Linked DNA regions of Homo sapiens: regions 2 and 3 are each linked to region 1. The links come from fine-mapping of genetic effects on gene expression. A gene starts in region 1. Each other region holds a variant in brackets. All regions are shown on one strand. Distances are between the middles of the regions.

What was found. PIP is the estimated chance that this variant, and not a neighbour inherited with it, causes the effect.
Region 2: its variant is fine-mapped to the expression of COL28A1 in cerebellum (GTEx, PIP above 0.99).
Region 3: its variant is fine-mapped to the expression of COL28A1 in iPS cells (HipSci, PIP 0.92).

What each region holds. Positions count from the first base shown.
Region 1 is chr7:7,534,723-7,537,493 of GRCh38, reverse strand. COL28A1 (collagen type XXVIII alpha 1 chain) reads left to right here and starts at 1,621. Exons shown (of 35, transcript NM_001037763.3): 1 at 1,621-1,744.
Region 2 is chr7:7,959,464-7,962,234 of GRCh38, reverse strand. All of the region lies in intron 1 of GLCCI1-DT (GLCCI1 divergent transcript), which reads left to right. Among named protein-coding and RNA genes, the nearest start is that of GLCCI1-DT, 7.9 kb to the left of the region's middle. RefSeq lists an enhancer at 1,903-2,032. The variant A/G (reference allele first, on the strand shown) is at 1,509.
Region 3 is chr7:7,508,240-7,511,010 of GRCh38, reverse strand. The region is part of intron 9 of COL28A1 (collagen type XXVIII alpha 1 chain); the gene reads left to right. Among named protein-coding and RNA genes, the nearest start is that of COL28A1, 26 kb to the left of the region's middle. The variant C/A (reference allele first, on the strand shown) is at 1,366.

The sequences.
Region 1 (2,771 bases):
CTTACAACATCTACTAAGTACAAGGGGTCCTGGAATAATATTTTGTTCAATGTCATTTTGTTATAACATTGATGAGAAAAAAAATTCAATTCCTGGGCCAGGCTCACTGTGTGGAGTTGACATGTTTTCCCCATGTCTGTGTGGGTTTTCTCCAGGTCCTGGAGTTTCCTCCCACATCCCAAAGCTTTGCCCATTAGATGCATTGGTGTGTCTACATGGTGCCTGTCTGAGAGAGTGGGTGGGTGTATGAGTGCCCTTTGACAGTACTGCATCCTGTCCAGGGCTGGTTCCTGCCTTGTATCCTCAGCTGCTGGGACAGGATCTGGTCAACCGTGACCCTGAACTGGAATATGCAGGTAAGCAGTTATCTTGTTTTTATCAATCTTTCATAAATGTATATATAGCTTAGATTTATTTCAATGTTTATTATTAGAGGTGTTTTGAGTATTTAGAGGTTTAGTGATGTTTTTGTGACTAGGAATATGCCATAAGAGCTTAACTCTTATTTATATCAATTAGCTCTTGGGAAAATTGTCTTCATTATCAATTGTTTCACTTTATGTCACAGTTTCCAGAACCTACAGAGGACATTAAGTGAGGACTTACTGTATATAGGTGGTTGTGCTTGTGAAGGATTAAATGAGGTAATGTGTGTGAAGCACTCAGGACAGTGCCTAGCACCTGGTAAGTGTCCATGAATTGGAGGCTATTATTGCTGTAATAAGGAAATTCATACACATTAAAATGGCTAAGAAAGTTCATTTTAAATAACCGTAACATGCACATTTGTATTGCTTTCTCGGATGATCTTGCTATTCTCTATTTCAGAGGAAGTCCGTGGAGAAGCCTGCCTGTTAGCTGTCTAGGGGTCAGGTGGCTTCTTGGCAGTATATATTACATGATAAACATTGACTTAATATGGACCATAACCACAAGGTAGAAAATAGGGAAACAGGGAGTGGAAAAACCACAGTGATCCTTTCCTAGAGAGAGACCAAAATATTAACCGCTGTAAACCTCTCATGTTACAGTTCGAACACATCTTAATAAATGATTAAATCTACTCTCTCATTTCATAAGTGGGGAACTGAAGCCCCCATAAAAGTTAGGGGCAGAACTATGACTATACTCAGACCACTCTTTCCCTGTATATTATATATACCTTTTATTATAAAAAATTTCAAAAATCACAGAAATACAAAGACTAGAACAATGCACACCTATGTACTCATCATCCAGCTTTAATAACAATCAAACTGTTACCTCTCTTAAAAAAACAGCTTTGATTCTGAGTCTGGTGTCATTTATACTCCTTCACAGAGATGTTCAGAACCAGTATCTTAGAGCACATCCCCCAGGCAAAGAAATGTAGCAATAAAAAGAGAAGGACATAGCATGAGAAAAAAAGGCAGGCTGTCAACCAATGCCTAAAATGTAGAAAGTTCTCTCAAGTTGTTTTTACAATAGTCTGGAAAACACAGTCTCATTCTGAAAGGACACTGTTCCTTTAAATTGCTTACTGATCCCACCCAGATCTTGCACCCTGGCCAAATGCCTGACCACTCTTGCTTTGACTTAGTCGAATAAACATGAACAAAAGACTGCAAAAGATCCTAAAGCAAAGACACTTTTATTTCCCACAGAACAGAACAATATCAAATAGCTAACTTCACCCCCAACCACAGTCCTTGCTGTTGGCATTTACTCAACTAGTCTTTAATTCCTGTTTGACAAACTTTATAAGGTAAGACATAACAGATTTATTTTAGTCACTTGAAATCAGATAGGACCATCAAGGAACTGTGGAAGACTAAATGACTTACTTACATAATTATTAGGTGAGAAAGCTTGTCAATAGTTTGTATTCTCTGCAATTACTTCAAATCAATTATTAGAAAAATATTAACATTGTTAAAATGTAGAAATTTAAAACTTAAAATTATTTTGAAATGGATTTTTAATTTACAGTCTTCTAAATTGTTTTACAACGATGTTAATATATTTTAGGACATCTTTTTCTTAATTTGGAACAGGGTTTACAATTCAGAATTAGTTATAGAATACTTTACAACTTGGCTAATTTGTCAATTTGAATAAAGTCTTTATTCAATCATTTTCTATTTGTGTAGAAACTGAGATGCAAACATTGTAACTAAAGTTGGTGAACTCTGATATAAGATCATTTTATTTTTGAAAAATTATAAAAAATAAAGTATCTTGGATTTATTTACTGATCCTGATATTTACCCCAAATAAATTTTAGGCCAAAAGTAAAACTACGGTATTTGATTAATAATTATGATTGTTTCTGCATTTATAAAATGTAACCTATAGTAAACACAGAGGTTCACATTTCTTTCACTTAACTAATGGCACTGTTTCCTCTGAAACCTATTTTGCTTGTACGTGACATCAGAAAGAGAGAAAGGTGAGAATTATTAAAAACAGAGGCAAAATAAAACATGGTAAAAAGTGATTAGAAATGAGTGGGCTCTCAAGATGCCAAATTAATAAACGAGAAAGATATTTCAGGGAAGCAGTAGAACTAACAAGCTAGAGAAACAAATCTAGAGAGGTATGAAAATGTCCTCTGGCTACAATAGGGAAACAGAAAGAAATAACAAGACTTTGGTTTGGGAGAGCTAGATTAACAATGTCAGAGCAAATAAGAACAAAATATGAGATACTGGGATTATTGTCAATGGAAAAGTTATGTTTGTGAATATCATATATACAGGGATCAGGTACAAATTCATGATTATATGCCAAGA
Region 2 (2,771 bases), 420 kb before region 1:
TGATGATTATTTTGTTTCTTATGCATTTTATTCAATCCTCCAAAACCACCCCAACTCCAGACCCATTCCTGCTGATACATCTCCACTACAGTCCCACCATCAAATCTATGATTTTTTCAACATTTGGATCAATTTCTTTTTCCTTTCTGTACAGGTAATACATGTTCTCCTTTCCTATCGAAAGCCATCTCCTCCACTTCTGATTTAAATTCTGACCCTCTTGTCTCTCAGGGACTTCATTTCTGCAGTTATTATCTCCATCTTCTTCATCATCAAATTATTGATTTTTCCCAGTAATGTTTGAACATGCTGTTATGCCAACATTTACTTTAAAAGGCAAAACAAAGATTCTTCTGCCATCCCTTTCCATCTATGGTCCAAATTCTTTGATCTTGTCACAGCAACAGTTCTTGACAGAGATGTCTACATGTTACTTCTGATATCCTATTTAATCCTATTAATCTACTATTTTCCTGTTTAGTCTATTCCAATCTGGCTTCATGCCACTGAAAACTGCTAATCAATATCAACTGCCTCCATATTGCCAGACCCAGTGGATATTTCTGGGACCTCTTCCTTTTCCAGCTTTTAGCAGTTTTCCACATTGCTGGTCAGGCTCAGTTCTTTAAAAAAATCTCTTCTATAGGAGTCTGGGACACTGTACTCACCTGTTCTGTTTCCTACTTCTCTAACCACTACTGCTCAGTGCTCTTCAGGTTCTTCCTCCTCTAGTTCCCTCTAAAAATTGGCCTCTATTCTCTGCTTGCTTCTGTATAAACTCACCTTCTTGGTAATCTTAGACATTCCCATGGCTTTAAATACTGCAAAATGCTGGCAACTCCTAAATGAAACTCTCCAGCCCAGACATTTCCTCCAAGATTCATATTTGTATATTCAGTTGCCTGCTTGATACGTCAAGTACCCATGAATACTTGAAGTGAATGTGTCTAAAATGGGCCTAAAATCTTAATTTCCATATTCCTGCTTTCTCTTAACCTCTGAGAAAATTGTCCCCATTTTTTCCCCATTTCAGCAAATGGTTTCACCATCTATCCAGTTATTCCAAACAATTAACCTAGACAATATTTTTGATTTCTCATTTTTCTCCCCACCATCGCCCCCTCCAACCCAGCAGCTAGTCCTCTCATTTGTTTTTAATAAATGGATGTCTAATCCATCCACTTCTATCTCTTCTGCTATTACATTAAGTCAAACTACTGTCATCTCTTACCTAATCTATTGCTGCAGCTACTCAACTTGCCTCCCAGCTTCTACTCTTGCCTTCTTTAATTTAGTTTCTACTTATTAGTCAGGGTAAACTTGGAAATATGTTGAGCCACATTTCCTGCTTAAAAATGTTCAGTGTCGGGTGGGCGCGGTGGCTCACGCCTGTAATCCCAGCATTTTGGGAGGCCAAGGCAGGTGGATCACAAGGTCAAGAGATCGAGACCATCCTGGCCAACATGGTGAAACCCCGTCTCTACTAAAAATACAAAAATTAGTTGGGC[A/G]TGGTGGCACGTGCCTATAGTCCAGCTACTCGGGAGGCTGAGGCAGGAGAATCGCTTGAACCAGGGAGGTGGAGGTTGCAGTGAGCCGAGATCATGCCACTGCCCTCCAGCCTGGCAACAGATTGAGACTTCATCTCAAAAAAAAAAAAAGGTTTGGTGTCTTCCAATAACTTTGCAATGAAATCCAAATTCCTTAAAATAGCTTAAAAGGCCTGACCTGGCCTGACTACTTTTGCTCTACTCTTCTCCTCCCCTTTTCAGTTCCAGCCACAATGCCTCCTTTCACTTCCCCTGAAACGCTCCTGCATGGCCTGCATACAGGTGTCTCCTCAGCCTAAATCACTTCTACCTCCCTGCTCCTCAATTCCCTTGAAATGCCATGTCTTAGAATGTCCTTCCTGAGTCCTCACCCATCACTAATAACCTATAATAATCTATCATTAAGTCAGTTTTTTCCATCTATTTTGCTCATTAAATGTTGTCAATACACATTTGTTTACCTCCTAATGGCAAGTCTTTCCTACTAGATTGTAAAGTCTCTAGAGGCAGCGACCTTGTTTGTCTCTTCTGTTCACTACTTGATCACTTAACACCTATGTAGTTCCTAGGATATACCACGTGTTCAATAATTACTTGTTATAACTTTACTTGTTGCTGATGGCTTCATCATTCATTATTCCAGTCCTTGTACAGTCCTACTATACTTTCTGTGGGAGAGTTTCCTATAGTCTTGTACTCAGATCCCTTTTGTCATGTCAATAATTTGAGTAGGTTTCTGCTGTTATATCAAATGACCACTAATTGATGCAGCTTTTAAAAGGACAAGGTGATCAGCAATGTCACATGCTGCTGAATGGGAAAGCAGGTTAAGAGCTAAGCAAAAAGCACTGGATCTCATCACTGATCATCTTCAAGCCAATAGTGTCCATAAAATATGGCCCAATCGAAGCCAGATTACAACTAAGTTAGCAAGATGGGTACGAAGGTAGATGCATCAATGCAGAATATTCCTTTTAAGAGTGTAACAATTAAAATAAGGCATGATATAAAATGGGATCTTGGGGTTGAGCAGAGCCAAAGAAAGTACATGTTAGTCTAGTTTAAAAGAAAAGACAGGCCAGGTGCGGTGGCTCACGCCTGTAATCCCAACACTTTGGGGGGGCAAGGCGGGCAGATCATCTGAGGTCGGGAGTTTGAGACCAGCCTGACCAACATGGAGAAACCCGATCTCTACTAAAAATACAAAAGTAGCCGGGCGTGGTG
Region 3 (2,771 bases), 26 kb after region 1:
ATTATGGTGATCTCACTACTAGAGTTGGAATCAATGGCTCAATTTTTCACATCTGTAAAACATGTGGTAGAAAACAAAGTGATGCCTAACTCAATAATAGAACCCCCAAATGCCTTTTTTATGGACCATTAAGACTTCATTTTCTGACACCCTAACCTTGGAGGCCACGCCCACTGAATGTTATGGTAAAAAGAATTATTTAACCTGCAAAGTTAATTAAAGCTGCAGTTAGGTCAGGGTAGAAGTGCTTTCCAGATGCAAACACTGAAAACAGGCACTTTCCAAAATAGTGTGAAGAACTCTGAAATCAGTCAGTGAAATAGTTATAAACAGTGTGGTGCAACTAGACATAGAGATTTGGAATTTTGAAAATGTAGACACAAACAATTGGATAAATATTCACCTTTATTTTAAAAAATAAATATAGGCTGAACGCAGTGGCTAACACCTGTAATCCCAGCACTTTGGGAGGCCAAGGTGGGTGGATCACCTGAGGTCAGGAGTTTGAGACCAGCCTGACCAATACGGTGAAACACCATCTCTACTAAAAATACAAAAATTAGCCAGGCATGGTGGCGTGCACCTGTAGTCCCAGCTACTCAGGAGGCTGAGACAGGAAAATTGCTTGAACCCAGGAGGCAGACGTTGCAGTGAGCCAAGATCGTGCCACTGCACTCCAGCCTGGGTGACAGAGTGACTCCGTCTCAAAAATCAATCAATCAATCAATCAATCAATAATGAAAGCACTTAAATTTGGAAATAATATTATGTTAAAGAGTTCCTCAAAAGGCCAAATATATACAGAGAGTATATCTGAAACATGATGTTAAAGGGTCCAAAAAAGTACAGAGTAAAAATAAATAGTTTTCATTATATTAAGAACTATTAACATCATGCCACCAAGATACCAAACTTTTTCAGTTTCTATGTTATAATTCTGGAAGGGAGTCAAGGAGAGAAAATGAGGCAGAAGGTTAGGAGAAGAGGGTGAGATAATGACTTTGGCCCATGAAACTAAACACTTTAAATAGATTGAGACTTTCTGAATGCTTTTAAAGTACTGTAGAGTTAAAGTCAGGTGGATCTGCAAAAGGTAGGCTTGGTAATTATCTCTGGTCAAAATGGGAAATGTGAAAATGAATAGATTCTTCCTGGAGTATAACTGAACATGGAAGATGGACCTGGATATTGGCAATGCAGAAAAAGGGACACACATAGAATAGAATAGAAATGAAAGTCAAAGAATACCTGGGAAAACTAGATGAAATTAAAATGGTTGACAAAGGATATCATATTTCATTGACTAAGATGTCAGGGATTATTAAATGTCCCATTATTTTCCATACCAAAAAGGAATAACAACAA[C/A]AAAAAAAACCCACTGCCAATTATAAATGTAAGGTGCAATTGACTGTAAAATATACCCCAATGTCAGAGATATAAAAATGTGAAAAAATGTGCCTTAGAACTGATGAGATATAGAGTCCTTGACACGAAGAGTTTACACAAGTTTGTTCAGAAAAACATATGAACAACATGAAGAGATAGAGAAGTGGAAATTAAAATGGCTAATAAATAAGAAAAATATCCGAATACAGTAGCAATCAGATAAGTGAAATTAATACATTAAAATTAGGCCGAAGTGGGAGGATCACTTGAGTCCAGGAGTTTGAGACCAGCCTGGGCAACATAGTGAGGCCCCGTCTCTACAAAAAATTTAAAAATTAGTTGGACATGTGCCTGTAATTCCAGATACTTGGGAAGCTGAGGTGGGAAGATTGCTTGAGTCCAGGGGGTTGAGGCTGCAGTGAGCTGTCATTGTGCCACTCTACTCCAGTTTGGGTAACAGAGCGAAACCCTGTCTCAAAAAAAACAAAATAGGCTGGGCGTGGTGGCTTATGCCTGTAATCCCAACACTTTTGGAGGCCAAGGTGGGCAGGTCATCAGAGGTCAGGAGTTTGAGACAAGCCTGGCTAACAAGGTGAAACCCTATCTCTACTAAAAATACAAAAATTAGCTGGGCATGGTGGTGCACACCTGTAATTTCAGCTACTCGGGAGGCTGGAGCAGGAGAATTGCTTGAACCTGGGAGGCAGAGGTTGCAGTGGACCGAGATTGTGCCATTGCACTCCAGCCTGGGGGACAGAGTAAGACTCCATCTCAAAAACAAAACAAAACCAACAATAAAACAATAAGGTATTATATCACCAGTGTGGGCAACTAGGGAGGCTGAGGTGGGAGGATTGCTTGAACCTGGGAGATAGAGGCTGCAGTGAGCTACTCCAGCCTGGGCAACAGAGCAAGACCCTGTCTCAAACAACAACAACAACAACACCAGCAACCAAAAGCAAACATACAAAAGTATTATATCACCTATCAAATTAGCAAACAGTGAAGTAATGTATAATACTAATTGTTGATGGGGAGCCCATAAGATGAAGATACACTCTCTCATACTCGGGTAGTGGAAATGATTAACAAACAAACTTTATGGAGGAAGTTTCTCTCTCTTTATTTCTATATATGGCATGAGAGACAAAGGACAGCCGGTGAACCTTAAATGTGCTTATGGTCTCTGCTTCCATCATCCTCTTCTAGTAGACTATTCTTAGGAGTGAATCAGAAGTTGGGCAGAGATTTATACATAAAGATGTTCATTATAATATTAGGTCAAAGCTAGGGAAATGAGTAAATAAATTATGGTAGTTCCCTATTCTTGACTATTATCTGTTTACTATGAGTTTTTAATGACATGGAAAAAGGAAATTTTTTTT